Regions from separate parts of the Homo sapiens genome. Here region 2 is linked to region 1. Evidence: fine-mapped expression QTL. Tissue or cell type: regulatory T cells. Region 1 holds a variant in brackets; the other region holds the start of a gene. All regions are shown on one strand. Distances are from middle to middle.

Region 1 (8,104 bases):
CCTTCTACTGGGAGGCTCACAAAACATCCTGGACTTCTTCCTCTAATCATGCCTGAAGTCCAGCTGAGCTAATTTCCCTACCTTTGCTTAAACCCATCTGCTTCTTTCCATACAAGTCCATGTCAGATGCAGGCAGTCAAAGAATTGTCTCAGAGTTCATATCCATCCTCCTCCTTTCCTTCTTTCTTTTGCATTTCCCTCTTTCTCCATTCACTCAGTCAGTCAACAAACACAGGTTGAACATCTATACCATGCTAGGCCCTAGAAATATAAAGAGCAAAAAAAGACAATGCCCCTAAGGTCAGGGAGTTCACAATATAGCAGGACAGGGATGTCAAGAACCCTAGAATCATGAAATTTGCACACACAAGGAGCTCAGAGGCCATTCTTTCTTAACTAAGTTACATAAATCTGGATTGTTATTCCTTTTACAATATTTCAAACAAAAAAGTAAAGACACTAACATATCTGACACCCAAGCACCCAACACCCAGCTCTATGGAATTCTGACATTTATCTTTCTCCTGTATGTTTATACTATATAAAATATATGTAACTACATACCCATTACGTTTTCAAACTATATATAAAATGTATCACATTCTGTATGTCATTTTACAAAGTGATACAAAGTGATTTTTTGCTCAACTTTATGTTTTTGAGGTTAGCCACATTTGGATTTCTTCCTTTCCAATTCTTATACCATTTTTCTTATATTATTGCATAGGCTAGGTTCTCCAATGTGGAAAAGACGTGATGAGAACAGCCATCCTTGTTTTACTCCTGAGTTTAAAAGAATGCTTCTGGGCTGGGCGTGGTGGCTCACACCTGTAATCCCAGCACTTCAGAAGGCCAAGGCAGGCAGATCACCTGAGGTCAGGAGTTCAAGACCAGCCTGGCCAATGTGGTGAAACCCCATCTCTACTAAAAATACAAAAACTAGCCAGGTTTGGTGGTGGGTGCCTGTGGTCTCAGCTACTCAGGAGGCTGAGGCAGGAGAATCACTTGAACCCAGGAGGCAAAAGTTACAGTGAGCTGAGATGGCACCACTGCACTCCAGCCTGGGCGACAGAGCAAGACTACATCTCAAAAAAAAAAAAAAAAAAAAGATTTGTGCCATTTGAGTTTGTTTGCTGGTGATTTTTGGTAGATAACCCTTATCATGTTCAAAAAGCTTCCTTTTATTCCAAATTTGGTTAAGTTTTACCATGAATGGATATAATTTTTTATCACATGAATTTTCTGCATCTATTAAGATGATCAATATTTTCTCCTTTAATTTTTTAATATGGTGAGTAGTATTCATAAATTAAGTTAAACATTCTTACATTCTAGTATTAAACTCTAAAAATAGGCTAGTTAATTCATTTTGCTCATATTTTATTTATGACTTTTGTATTTATGTTCATAAGTGAGTGTATCAGTTCTCTATTACTATTGAAATAACAATAACTGATTGAAACAACAATAAAATATGCTGGGAGTGGTGACACATACCTCTAGTCCCAGCTACTCAGGTGGCTGAGGCAGGAGGATCGCTTGCACCCAGGAGGTCAAGGCTGCAGTGAGCCACGATTGTGCCACTGCACTCCAGCCTGGGCGACAGAGTGAGATCCTATCTCAAAAATAATAACAATAATAACAATAATAAACAGGTGGAAGCTGCAATGTCTGTCATCACTTAAGCTGAGATGTCACACACCATTATTTTCTGCACCACCCTACCGGTTACACAGATCAGCCCTATTCATTGTGGAAAGGTGTGACACAAGGGCATGAGCACCAGGAGGTGAGGATCACTGGGGCCAGACCAGAAGCTGGCTCCCACATAAGCCCTGCAGAGTTATTTGAGTTCTAAAAAAACATGAATATGTATATCTTTAATAAAAATGAGAAGTTTAAATGAGTTTTTGGCCAGTCATGGTGGCTCATGCCTGTAAATCCCAGCACTTTGGGAGGCCGAGGAGGGTGGATCACCTGAGGTCAGAAGTTCAAGAACAGCCTGACAAACATGGTGAAACCCCATCTCTACTAAAAATGCAAAAATTAGGCCAGGCACTGTGGCTCACGCCTGTAATGCCAGCACTTTGGGAGGCCAAGGCGGGCGGATCACGAGGTCAGGAGTTTGAGACCATCCTGGCCAACATGGTGAAACCCCGTCTATACTAAAAATACAAAAATTAGCTGGGCATGGTGGTGCGTGCCTATAGTCCCAGCTACTCGGGAGGCTGAGACAGGAGAATTCCTTGAACCCAGGAGGCGGAGGTTGCAGTGAGCCGAGATAGCACCACTGCACTCCTGCCTGGAGACAGAGCAAGACATCGTCTCAAAAAAACAAAAAAAAAAAAAGCAAAAATTAGCCAGGCCTGTCCCAGCCACTCAGGAGGCCAAGGCATGAGAATTGCTTGAACTCGGGAGGCAGAGGTTGCAGTGAGCCGAGATCACAAAACTGCACACCAGCCTGGGTGACAGAGACTCGGTCTCAAAAATAAATAAATAAAAAATAAAGGAGTTTCTGTTGTAGTCAACACTCATTTAAATTTATCAACATGTTTTATCTATTTCTATGCTTAACAGTGTTTCATGTGCTCTCCCCTTTTTTTCTGGTTCATTTTTCTTCCTGAAGTGTATAACCTATAATAATTCTTTAAATGAGGGGCTGCACTTTACATGTATCGAAACGCCCCTTTTGTCTTAAATTTCCACTGTAAGTTAGCTGGGCATAAAAATCCAATTGGCACTTTGAAGATACTACCCCCTCATCCCCAGCCTCAGTCTTTGCTGAGGTCCAGAAATTACTTTTTAAGTAATCTGTCTTTTTCTCAGGTCCATGGTAAGGTTTTATTCTCTTTGCCCTTGATGTTCTGCAATTTCCCCAAGGAAATTTCTCAGCTACTATTTCCTCATGTATTTTTCACTGCCATTCCCTTTATTCTCTTCCTCTGAAACTCCTATTAGACATACATAGCCCTTCATGCAAGCTGTCCTTCATATCTCATAACTGCTTTTATATTTTTTAATCTTTGTGTATTGTATTCATGTTAATTCCTAAGTAATGTCTTCTAACTCAATAATTCTCTTTTTGCATCATTTATTCTGTCTACTGAGCTTTCTTTTAATGAACAAACTTTCTATTTCTAAGATTTCTAATTGATTCTTTTCACATCTACTTGTTCTAGTTTCATTTTGATCTGCCTTCATTTATGTCTTGTTAATTTCCAATGGATATTAAGCCTTCATTTGCCATTTTTGGCATCCTAAACATTTTTAATTCTTTGTAAGACTTTCACAAAATTAATTTAATCTGCAGTGAACTCATATTCCACATGGTGATTCTGTTGACTGCTTTTCTTTCTTGCTTTTTTTTTTTTCTAAAGATGGGATTTCACTATGTTGGCCAGGCTGGTCTTGAACTCCTGACCCCAGGTGATCCTCCCACCTTCACCTCCCAAAGTGCTGGGATTACAGGCACGAGCCACCACGCCCGGCCTTGTTGACTGTTTTTCTTACCATTGTTTCTCATCTATTTTGGCTTACAACTTTACAGTGAGTTGGAGGGTTTTCCACCTTGTTTTTACATCTGTTTTTCACTCTGTCTCTAACTATCCTGAGCTAGGACCTCAGGCCCAGTTGAGGTCTTACAATAGCATTGCAGGGCTCTACTCTGTTGTGGCATGAGGACACCACAGCTACAAGCACGTAGCCAGAGGGTGGCTTGGCTCAGCATCTAGTCAAGAGTCTGTCCTCATCTTCCCACAACTCAAGCCCCAAGCTATTTGTGGACAGCTGGCTTCCTCACTCCATCCCCGCCACCCCCGATTCTTTTCACAAGCAGAGGGAACCTTCCCCGAGCCCTGGCTTCCAGACACCTGGCTGTTGGCCCCTTTGTAGCATGGAGCACTTTAACTCCCTTACCAGGAGCTCTGTGTCTGGCAGCTACTGCTGTTTCCAGACCCCGAGGCCAGCAGGCCCCTGGCCCCAGTCACCAATTTGCATTTCTGATCTGCTTGTGGTACACAGAGATAGCCATTTTGGTTGGGGCCCAACTATGTCCTTTTGTTTATCATTTTTTCTATTTTATTCCTGATTGCTGTGTGTTTGGAACAGAGAGAGGAGGCCACAGCGTGAGCCCACTCTGCCGTCTTGGCTGGAAGTCCAGCACTGAATTGTGAGGCTGCCGTACCTGTAGAAAGTCCCATGTCTGCTTTCATTCAGGTAAAAGAGGAGAGATGGTTTCATTAAAATCCAATAGGCATTTTTTTTTTTTAAAGATGGAGTCTCACTCTGTTGCCCATGCTGGAGTGCAGTGGTGGGATCTTGGCTCACTGCAGCCTCCATCTCCCAGGTTCAAGCGATTCTCCTGCCTCAGCCTCCCAAGTAGCTGTGACGACAGGCATGCGCCACTACACCTGGCTAAGTTTTGTATTTTTAGTAGAGACAGGGTCTCACCATGTTGGCCACGCTGGTCTTGAATTCCTGACCTCAAATGATTTGCCCACCTTGGCCTCCCAAAGTGCTGAGATTACAGGTGTGAGCCACTGTCCCCAGCCCACTCAGGGGCTTTTATGCTTCACTATGAATTTCCTCTCAGGATAACAGACTGAGCCCGTGTGTTCCCCAGTCACACACACACACACACACACACACACACACACACACACGCTGAGGGTTATTCTTTGAAAGGGGAGGCCACGTCTGGGGGCGGTGGCTCACGCCTGTAATCTCAGCACTTCGGGAGGCCGAGGTGGGTGGATCACCTGAGGTCAGCAGTTCAAGACCAGCCTGGCCAACATGGTGAAACCCCGTCTCTACTAAAAATACAAAAATTAGCTGGGCGTGGTGGCGCATGCCTGTAATCCCAGCTACTTGGGAGGCTGAGGCAGGAGAATCGCTTGAACCTGGGAGGCAGAGGTTGCAGTGAGCCGAGACTGTGCCATTGCACTCTAGCCTGGGCAACAGAGTGAGACTCCATCTCAAAAAAAAAAAAAAAAA[GAAA/A]AAGAAAGAAAGAAAGAAAAGAAAGGGGCAGCCACGGGATGCAGACAAGGCCTGATCGCCACCACTCCTCCCTCCTCAGAGCAGAGCTGGGCCTGTGGGTAACCATGGGTAGCAGCTGGTGCTGGGTACCACGGAAGGCACGTGTGGGGTGAGGCTCCCCTTCAAACCGTTCCCAGGGGAGCGCCTCCCCCTGGTGGCCATCAGAGGAAGCAGCGGTGCTCTCTGCCAAGGACAAGGCCGCAAGGAGTGAAGATTTTCCACACACAGCCAATCGTGCAGACCTGGGACCTGTGGTCATGACACCGGCAGCCTAAAGGTCCTACTTAAATAGGGCCCAGGGCAGAATTCTGTCTATGATCTCCCCTGCTGTGCCGGGACACAGCCCACTCTGCTCAGGACTGTGTAGAGGCGGCTCCCTCCTGCCTGGCCCTTCTGAGCCTCAGAACATTGACTCCAGAGACCACTGGGTCCATAGATTCTTTGGATGGATTTTTAAACTTGAATGTCCAGACCCTTCTTGAGGCCACACAGAGGACTGAGGGAGGGCAGTCTGTGTAGGGGTCCAGGACATGGGTTTGAGGATTAGATAGACCTGAGTCCAAATCCCACTTGCCACTTGTTAGCTGTGTATCTCTAGGCAAGTTACTTAACCTCTTTGTGCCTCTGTTTCTTCATCTGTAAAATAAAGATAATAGTTGTATATACCTTAAGGGGTTGCTGTGAGAATAGAGCCAGATAACCAGGTCCCTCCTCCCTCTCCGCCCCCCGCCCATGGCCCCTGTTTTGGAGGTGCCTGGGCTCTTACTGCCTCTTCCTCTGCCCTTCCTGGAAACTGCGGGCTTCCATCAGCCTCCTCTGGGCCTTGGGCGACAGGGATGGGGGTCTTTTTTTTTTTTTTTTTTTTTTTTTGAGACAGAGTCAGTCTGTCACCCAAGCTGGAATGTGGTGGTGCGATCTTGGCTTGCTGCAATCTCTGCCTCCTGGGTTCAAGTGATTCTCCCGTCTCAGCCTCCAGAGTGGCTGGGACTACAGGCGTGTGCCACTATGCCTGGCTAATTTTTGTATTTTTAGTAAAGGTGGGATTTCACCATGTTGGCCAAGCTGGTCTCAAACTCCTGACCTCAGGTGATCCGCCCGCCTTGGCCTCCCAAAGTGCTGGGATTACATGCGTGAGCCACCGCTCCTGGTTGGGGGCATTTTTTGAGGAGGAGCCAGGCCCAGATGGAGTCACACTGCAGAGGCCTCACATGGGGGCCAAAGTCCTCAGGCCCTGAAGGTGTCCCAGAGAATCACAAACTCACAAACATACCCTCTGGCTGCTGGGGCCTGGGCTTCTCCTGTTTAATGATTTCCCACCCAGTGGCCCACAGGTCCTATACTCTCAGGGAACACACACAGAATTCTGGAGCCCCTGCCAGAGGCACAGTTCAAACACAGCAGAGCTGGGCCTGCAGCTGGTCTGTCAGTCACACTAAAGTTATGGCGCACCTGCTCTGTATTTAGCACTGGGGCTTCTAAGGGAAGGGATGTGTCTCTGCCTTCAAGGCATTCGCAGCACAGTGGGGAGACTGGCTGCAGAGCCCCCTGACATGACTCACAGGAGCCGCTCTAGTGAGACTCTGCAGGCACAGCCCGGGCCCAGATCAGGGTCCGCCCAGGAGAGTCAGGGACGGCACCCAGAAGAGGGGCTTCTGGCTGGGCACTTGAATGTGGAGTAAGAATTTGCCAGGCAGACAGACTTGATCGATTCATTCGATACGTTTTCATTCGACACCTGCCACCCTCCCTGCAGCTGCTGTTCTATGCACTAAGGATTCAGTGGTGAAGAAGAGTAAAGCAGTTCTTGCTGTCCAGACCTTGGCCTGGCACTCACTGCAGGCCCATGGTGCTCTCCTGTTGAACATAAACAGTTTCACAGAACATCAACATCAGACAAGGCCACTCTGTGGCTGTGATGGAACTAGACAGAAACAAGCCCAAACCCTACAAGTTCTTTCTGACACCCCCTCACTGATACGCCCACAGTGCCCCATGGCGTGCGTTCCCCTTCACTGCAACCAGCCATAAACCCCAAGTGCTCCACTATAGGTGGGATCCTGGTGGTCTTCGGGTGGAGGGCAATTGACAGTGATGGCTGAGAGGTAGGATTTGAGTGGAAATGTGGAGATTGAATGAAATGAAGGGCAAGCCATGCGGAAACGTCAGGGCGGAACATTCCAGGCAGACGGAACAGTCATCGTAAAGGCTCTGAGGATGGAATATGACAGGCAGATTTGAAACCTGCAAATATGCCAACCTAGCTGGAGCAGAAAAGGCAGAGCAGGTATTCCAGGCAGAGGGAAAAGACTGTGAAAACCTAATGTGAAGGAAAGTAGGCCCCTGCTGACACGTATGGGTAGTTCTGTGCAGTTGAAATAGAAAGTTAGGCCAGGCTCGGTGGCTCACGCATATAATCCCAGCACTTTGGGAGGCCAAGGCAGGCAGATCACCTGAGGTCAGGAACTCGAGAGCAGCCTGACCTATATGGTAAAACCCCGTCTCTACTAAAAACACAAAAATTAGCTGGGCATGGTGGCAGGCGCCTGTAGTCCCAGCTACTCGGGAGGCTGAGACAGGAGAATTGCTTGAACCCAGGGGGCGGAGGTTGCAGTGAGCCAAGATAGTGCCACAGCACTCCAGCCTGGGTGACAGAGAGAGACTCCCATCTCAAAAAAAAAAAAGAAAAAAAAAAAAGAAAGCTAATGTCATTTGTTTTGGAGAAGAAGGATGAGTACACAGGAAATATGCAATTAAGAGCCTTCATTGCCTCTCCTCAGAGATTCTTAGCAAAATCACCAAGAACCCAAATGCTCTGCCGGAGCCACCCATGATGGCATTTTCCTTTGATGTGGTAATAGAGTAAGCTGATCAATAGCCTCGGTAGTGAGGCCTACCGAAGGGAAATGCACTTGTTCGGGACAATTCCTTCATGTTATCACTAAGAGGGAAGAGAAAACAGATGGCAGTGCTCCTCACTTTCGGGTGACCCTGCCAGCCCACCCCACGGTTTTGCGTCTTCATGATCCATCTAGGGGAAAGCCTGCCCCTTTGGTTTAGGTCTAATAGGATT
Region 2 (8,104 bases), 120 kb after region 1:
CACCGCAAAGGATGCAACATGGGCCTCACTGCAGCACCCTTATTAACTAGAGTTAAAAACTGGGCAGACCTCATCAGTGAAAGAGAGGCACTGCTAGGCACTAGAATATGGAACGGGGAAGTCCCCATGAGCAGGCTGTATGCAGACCAACCTTAATGTAGTCCTCAGAGGAGTACAGGTACTTGTCAATCTGGGTGAGGCCACCATCCACATCCCACAGCAGAATCATCCCAAGAGATGCAGCTGCACTCAACATTCCTATACCAGGGAAGAATCTATTAGTCTTAAAATGGCCCTATCCTGAGGATCCTGTTATTATAAAGAGCTCTCCAAAGAACTGCATGGTGGATCCCTTGTCAGATAACTTATGACTCCAAGAGGACAAAAGAAGTGATCAAAGCAAAACAAAAGACAAAGCAGGAACAGAATTATACCGTGGTCCTTGTTCTTGTAAAGCCATTTGTTGCCATCATCTGTTAGCAGCTTGTCTTGGCCAAAAGCTGCATTCACAAAGCCATTCACAAAAGAGGAGGCCAGGTTCATGCGGGCAGAGTCCACCTGAGAGCCACTGCCCCCAAACCCTGCAACAGGAGGGAGAGGAAAAGTAAGGAAAGAAGGTTTCAGGTAGGACAGGAAAGAAACACAGCATGGCAACTGGTCTCTGGTTCTGAGCTAGTCCCTTAGTATCCTCTACCTATACCCCCCCAAGCAGTGACCTGAAAAAGATTCATGAGGATTCTGAGCTCGATAGGATAAGCATGTTGGCCAAGCCATCACTCCCAATACAAGGGGCATACCTACAATCCCCCAAATCCCATACACAGAGAGGGCTACTCACTGTTGTTCTCTAGGTGGGTTTTGTAGATGTCATCAGGCACCTTGGGCTCCATGATGTCCAGCTGAAGAGAAGTCAGAGGGTCACAATTGCTTCCCTAGAACTCCCCCAGCTGTCCCTTCTGCTATCCCACTGAATGGCAATTCTAATCAAGGAGAGTCTAGTCAGAGGTAGAGTCAGGGAGGTGAAATGGCAGGTAGAATTATGACGAAAAGGCCTTGATGAAAAAAGGGCAGTCTCACCTCCCGAGCTAAGGCCAAGAAGTTGCTGTTGAGCTGTACATTGGACATGATCTCTGTCAGGTCCTCATACTCCTCGACATCTTCACTCAGCTCCAGGAACACCCCATGCCGGCCTAGCATGAATGCCATCTGTTTCTGTACTACCCTGTGGAGAGAGCCCGTACATCTGCTCATCACTGTCCACTAAGGGCACAGGAAAACCCCTCAAGCCCTAACCAGAAACTACAAGTCCCAGCTCTTTATGCAAGTGTCCTATTCGTAAGCTTATCTCTTTGCCAGCTTCTTCCCTACATACACATCCTTGCAGGAGGTGAAGATGTCTTCTACCAACTCCATGTCATTGAGCATCAATGCCAATCTCAGAGCTTCAGGGAAGCGGCTAAACTTTCGGAACACACCCAGGGCACAACGCAGTAGGGCTGAGTTCTCAGGCTCAGGCACGTAATTCACACAACTACAAAAGTAAAAGTAACAAAGAATTCAGAAAGTCCCAGGCACTCATTTTCCCCATGAATTCACTTACCCAAAATAAATAATAAATATCTACTATATACACCAGGCACTGTGCTAGATGTTAGAACTACTAAGAAGACACAAAGTCTCTGTCCTCAAGAAACTCACACACATCAAAAGATTAACTACAGCGTGATGCTATGCTTGAGCAAATGCTCTGGGAAAATAGAGGAGGCGCAATTGAGAGAGAGGTGCTGAGGAGGGCATGCCTGCCACCCTTCCCTACCATGTTCACTCACCTGGTGAGATAAAGGCAGACCTTTGCATATGCATTTTCATCAATGTCCTTCTCCAGCATGTCCACCTGCTCAATTTCCATAAGCAGGTCGCAAGCCTCATGCTCTGCATTGTGGGCCATGTTATAGGGGACGATTTCCTTCACCAGAGTGAGCAGAGGCTCCCGCTGGACCTTCTCTGCGTCATCCAGCTCCTGCCACTCCTTAGCCACTTCTCCTGCCAGATGCCTACAGATAGTCCCAGACGATTAAGAGAGCACAGCTTCAGGGGAAGCACTTCTCTGTGGGTCAAGGAATCCAGCGTCTGGGAAATTCAATACACTGATGCTCCAAGACAGATTGTACTCCACAAGAAAATTCTGAATTATCTCAGAGCCTCAGAGCCCCCTTCGGATTCCCAAGAAGAAAGATCTTACCTGACATACTCATGACCCCATGATGCCAATTCCTCCTGGGAGCCCACTAGCCGATACTTGAGGCACTCACGCTCCCCACTCATGGTCATGGCCAAAACGGAGATGATGTCAGCAGCAAAACGCTATAAAGAAAAGAGTTCTTTGAAGTCAAACCCAGCAGTCCAGCATAAAGGGAGCATGCATTGTGGAATCAAGATCATTGTCTCCGAAACTGAACTAACTACATACCAATCTCTGTACTAGAAATTTAACATGTTATGTAAGCTAAACCTCACAAAAACCAAGGTTGGTGTTGTTGCTATCTCCTTTTTTTTTTTTTTTTGAGACTCAGTTTCGCTCTTGCTGCCCAGGCTGGAGTGCAATGGTGTGCTCTCGGTTCACTGCAACCTCTGCCTCCGGGGTTCAAGTGATTCTCCTGCCTCAGCTTCCTAAGTAGCTGGGATTACAGGCGCCCACCACCACACCCAGCTAATTTTTTTTTTTTTAATTTTTAGTAGAGACGGGGTTTCACCATGTTGGCCAGGATGGTCTAAAACTCCTGACCTCAGGTGATCCACCCCTCGGCCTCCCAAAGTGCTAGGGTTACAGGTGTGAGCCACCACACCCAGCCACTGTCTTCCTTTTAAACTAACACAGCTGAAGGGTGATAAATGAGGGATAAAGTGGAAAAAAATGGAGGCTCTCAATTTTACTTTAATTGCAATTATAAACTATTAAAAGGTCTTAAGCAGAAAAGACCTATAACCGAGAAAGATCACGATAGCTGCTACATGAGAGACAGACTGTGTAGGAACAAAGCACAAAAGCAACAACATCAGTTAAGAGGTGCTGCAATAACCCATGCAAAAACTGAACATTTCCAGGATTAGGGTTGTACCAGCAGGCAGAGAAGTGACTGAATGTGGAACATATTTTAGAGATAAATGAATGTATATGGGATAGAAGAAAAGAGAAAAATCAAGGTTAAACATACGTTAAAAGTAGACCATGCTAATGAAACCCCAAAGTCCAATACACATGACAGAAACAGTGTCTTCTGAGAAGCTGACCTTCCTTTCAGCTCTTCTGTAGATATTTTGACTGTGATGAACTCTGCTCAAATAGATCACGGCTTAGGTCTATCAGGCTTCCTGTGACTCACAATGAGTCCCCCCATGATCTGGGTAAAAAGGAATTCCTAAACTAGGCCTCCACCAGGTTTGAAACAGTTTTACCTTATTCTCCCCAGGGGCCATGTTCTCATAGATTTCCTTCAGTTTGCCATAGTGTGGACGCAGAAATTTGAGAGGCTTGGGCACTGAAGTCATGGAAGTTGTAGAAGAACGAATCTGCCTTCGCAATTCCTCCAGCGCTGGTCGATACAGGGATGTATCCTTCTCCTGATCAAGAGACGACAGGGCTCAGACAAAAAGGAGTCACACCCCTTCAAGTCATAATACAGAGATATTTAACTTAACAACTCCTCCAAGGAAATGCTGTGTCTTATTCATTCATCTGTGATTCCTCAACTCCCTGCACCCTGCCTGGCACAAAAACAAATGACCCAAGTTAAGAGGTAAGAACTCTGCTTCTCCCACAAGAGAAAGCTGCAAAACTGTACAAATACCCTTTGTAACTCTCCTGCCTCCCAACATCATCATAACACTGACCCTAAAATACAGTCCACCGTACATAGCAGTTGCCTCAAAAAAGAATAAAACAAGTGGGAAAGATCCAAACATGCACCGAATCATGTTAACATCGTGACTCACCCCTAGTCGTTCCACGAGCATCTCCAGTTCATCTTGAAGCTGTTTATCCTCTTCAGACTGGAGGGTTGGGAGAAGCAGCTCATGAAGAGAAGGAATCCCAAAGACGTCCTCCTCCCACTTACCCGGGGCAGGTGAAGAATAAGCCTGCCTCCTTAGGAGGGGCCAGGTGGACAAGGAAACCGAGTGGGAATGGGAAGCCCTGGTGAGAAATCAGCCTGGGTTCTGAATCAGGCTCTACTTGAATGCCACTCTAGGAAACGGAGGTGACAATGACCTGCCCGAGTCCACTTCACGCGGCGGTGGTGAGGGTTGGTGGGGACGGCGGAGGTGACAGCGCGGAACGGAGAATGAGGAGCAGAGAGGCAAGGTGCCGGGAGTCCCGAGGGTCGCCCCAACCGCCCTCTCCCTGGCGCGGTGGGGTAGTTGGGTGTCGGGCCTGAGGCCTGCGGAGCCGCCGTGACTCAGCCCCGCAGCCTCCTTCGCCGACTCTCGGGGTCGCGCCTCACCAGCTCCTGTTCTTTGTCCTTGTCCCCGGCATCCCGCCGCTCCTTGCCGCTCGGCTTCTCGTCCGTGCCGCCGGGGGCCGCCGCTGGAGACTGCTGGGGCTGCACCGGCGCCTTGTCCCGGCCTCCCTCCTCCATCTCCGCCGCCACTGCCGGCCCGCTGCGCGCGCACCCGCTCGCACCGCCCTTTTTCCCAGACCAACTCGCGCGCGTCGGTCGCGGCGCCCCTCCTCCTCCAGAGCCCGCCTGCGACCGGAAACGCCGGGGCGAGCCGGGGCGCTCGGCGACCCACCCACCCCCTCGGCCTGAGAGCCCCGCCCTCGGACCCCGCCCTCGGAGGCAGGTGGAGACTACAATTCCCAGCCTCCCCCGCGCCATAGTCGCCCCTGGCCCCCGACCTCTTCGGAGTTTCCTGAAACCCGCGGGACTTGGCCGTGTGGGGTTTGGGTTCGCTCACTGCTGTAGATGGGCGGTCTGCGAGCGGAGTTACCGAGTTTTACTCCGCCACAGGTTTTTCTCATAACGGTGTAAATAGAACCCACAGTGACACTCCAGTTGACTGCGTGGCGCGACAGACAAACTAGATTTCTTGACGTCCAGGACGCTTGATTGCCGCCTGTATAAAGTCTGTGTAACTGTGTCTAGCCCCACACCACTGTGGAATATTAACCTCATTTGGTTTTGTTGTTGTTGTTGCTTTTGAGAAGGAGGCTCGCTCTCTCGCCCAGGCTGGAGTGCAGTGGCGCGATCTCGGCTCACTGCAAACTCCGCCTACCAGGTTCAAGTGATTCTCGTGCCTCAACCTCCCGAGTAGCTGGGATTACAGGCGCCCGCCACCACGCCCAGCTAATTTTTGTATTTTTTAGTAGAGACGGGGGTTTCACTATGTTGGCCAGGCTGGTCTCGAACTCCTGACCTCAAGTGATCTGCCCGCCTCAGCCTCCCAAAGAGCTGTAATTACAGGTGTGAACCACCGCGCCCGGCCTATTAACCTCATTTGATATTCCTCCCCAGTTGAAAGAGAGTACTCTGCTATTCCCGTGGCTACCATTTTAAATACTTTGGGGAGCCAGGTGGAGTTGACATCGATCAATAAAGCCCTGTGCTCCCCGCCAAGTTCTGGAGCTAAAAGCAGAACAAGACAAGGTCTTCGTCCTCTATCTTCTCGTCTTTCCCTGTGAAGCCTTAGAGGCGTGTGACTGACGCGCTTATGTCAGGACTGCTTTCGAGTGATTCCATGCACTTCTTACAATCTTTTGAGATTGGTAGGGTTAGGTCCATTTTACAGAGAAGATCATATCAAGTAGTAAAATGAGGATTTATTTTTTATTTTATTTATTTGTTTTGAGATAGTGTTTCTCTCCTGTTGCCCAGGCTGGAGTGCAATGGCGCAATCTCGGCTCACCACAACCTTCGCCTCCCGGGTGCAAGTGATTCTCCTGCCTCAGCCTCCCGAGTAGCTGGATAAAGAGGAGTTTTAGAAAAAAATCCCTCTACAGATGACTGAAGAAAGCATGAAAATGTATGGACACCGTGAAGCCAGAGATAGAATAGGCAGAACAGTTATGGACTGTTGAATTTTTGTGCCACCACGCCCGGCTAATTTTTGTATTTTTAGTAGAGACGGGGTTTCTCCATGTTGGTCAGGCTGGTCTCCAACTCCCGACCTCAGGTGATCCGCCCGCCTCGGCCTCCCAAAGTTCTGGGATTACAAGCGTGAGCCACCGCGCCCGGCGGAATCAAAATTTAAAGCTCAGTCTTTCAGTCTTCAAAGCCCTTGACTGTTTTAGGCAAACCCCAGAGTTTCTTCTTCAGCTGTGTGTGTGTGTGTGTGCGTGTAAGGTGAGAAAAAAGGAAGTATCTCTTCTCCCTTTCACCTAGTGGGAACACTCAGGAGTCTTCTAGCAATCTTATTTTATGGGTTCTGACACATTGAAGAAAAAGACACCTAGTACAACATATCACAGAGTGAATGTTGGGTAAATGTTTGTGTAGATACGGAAGTAAAGGTCTGAATCCATTTTAAATACCTGTTGCTCTTTTCCACTCAGTGCTTGGATTCTAGGCATGACCTTCCATTGCCATTGCCAATGACTCCCCCAGCGCTGGTCTGCAGACAAAAATTCAACAGTCCATAACTGTTCTGCCTATTCTATCTCTGGCTTCACGGTGTCCATACATTTTCATGCTTTCTTCAGTCATCTGTAGAGGGATTTTTTTCTAAAACTCCTCTTTATCCATGACTTCCTTCTTCTTTTTTTTTTTTTTTTCCAGACGGAGTCTCGCTCTGTCGTCCAGGCTGGAGTGCAGTGGCATGATCTCAGCTTGCTGCAACCTCTGCCTCCCGGGTTCAGGTGATTTTCCTGCTTCAGCCTCCCAAGTAACTGGGACTACAGGCATGCACCACCACACCCCGCTAATGTTTGTATTTTTAGTCGAGACGGGGATTCACCATGTTGGCCAGGCTGGTCTTGAACTCCTGACCTCAAGTTATCTGCCTGCCTTGGCCTCCCAAAGTGCTGGAATTACAGGCATGAGCCACTGCGCCCGGCCTGGAACTGTGTCTTATTCATCTTTATGCTCCTAGCCTCCAGCCTAGCGCCTGGCTTGTAGTGAGCCTTGATAAATATTTGCAGAATGCATGCATGCGGAATGAATGAATGAATGAATGGCTTTGCATTCATCTTCAGGCCATCTTTGTGTATAATAACAACCCACTGGGAGCTGTCTTTGGAGGCCAGAACTAGGCACTGGAAAATCATGAGGTTTCTCCATTTGTAAATCATGATAGACCCACTAAAACTGCTTTTTTTTTTTTTTTTTTTTTTTTTTTTTTTTTTTTTGAGATGGAGTCTCCCACTGTCGCCCAGCCTGGAGTGTAGTGGCACGATCTCGGCTCACTGCAACCTCCGCCTCCCGGGTTCAAGCGATTCTCCTGCTGGTCTTGAACTCCTGACATAGTGATCCACCCACCTCAGCCTCCCGAAGTGCTGGGATTACAGGCATGAGCCACTGCGCCCAGCCTGCTTTTTTTAATTAAAAAAAAAAAATAGGACCTCCAATCCTGCAGAAAACTGTGCTTATTTTTATGAGGGACTCTCTTCCACCCGGACATTTCCAAAGTGCTATCAAGGGTGTGAAATCATACTTCTTGGCATATGTTAGCTTATTGTGGATGGGAATTAGTTAGACTTACCAATGGGACTGCATAAGGGATGGCCTAGCACTTTACCTATAATTGCTTCCCTGTGTCCACCGAGGAGCACCATCCCTTATTTCCCCTTCTGCCTGGACACACCAGAGCATATCACATACGCATACTCAGCCTGACAGGGCTACTAAGGGTAAAGGTTACATCTCTTACCTGATGTTCACCTTGGCTTGCCTCTGGAACCAAGCACCTGCAGAGTGTTCAACAAACAGGTGTTCCCTGGCTTGATTTCAGCTCAATGTGTGCTTAGGTTTCCTGAAGCTGTCTGGTTGTCACATGTGCCTTGCCCAGGGAATCTGGGTTGCATGGAAATGCACCTGCTGGTGATGGTCCCACTCAGAAGCATGATGAAATTGCCCAGAAGACAGATGTGTGTGTTTCAGTCTAAATTCTGTCG

Evidence for each region. PIP is the estimated chance that this variant, and not a neighbour inherited with it, causes the effect.
Region 2: it holds the start of PSMD2, and the variant in region 1 is fine-mapped to the expression of PSMD2 in regulatory T cells (Schmiedel 2018, PIP 0.95).

The regions. Positions count from the first base shown.
Region 1 is chr3:184,415,110-184,423,213 of GRCh38, reverse strand. LINC02054 (long intergenic non-protein coding RNA 2054) reads right to left here. Exons shown (of 4, transcript NR_161199.1): 2 at 82-261. Among named protein-coding and RNA genes, the nearest start is that of LINC02054, 18 kb to the right of the region's middle. RefSeq lists an enhancer at 6,434-6,935. The variant GAAA/A (reference allele first, on the strand shown) is at 4,993.
Region 2 is chr3:184,295,797-184,303,900 of GRCh38, reverse strand. It overlaps PSMD2 (proteasome 26S subunit ubiquitin receptor, non-ATPase 2), which reads right to left and starts at 4,660. Exons shown (of 21, transcript NM_002808.5): 1 at 4,500-4,660; 2 at 3,994-4,050; 3 at 3,457-3,621; 4 at 2,243-2,364; 5 at 1,830-2,054; 6 at 1,373-1,531; 7 at 1,078-1,222; 8 at 839-899; 9 at 435-581; 10 at 152-258. The coding sequence starts at 4,634. RefSeq lists a silencer at 4,653-4,992.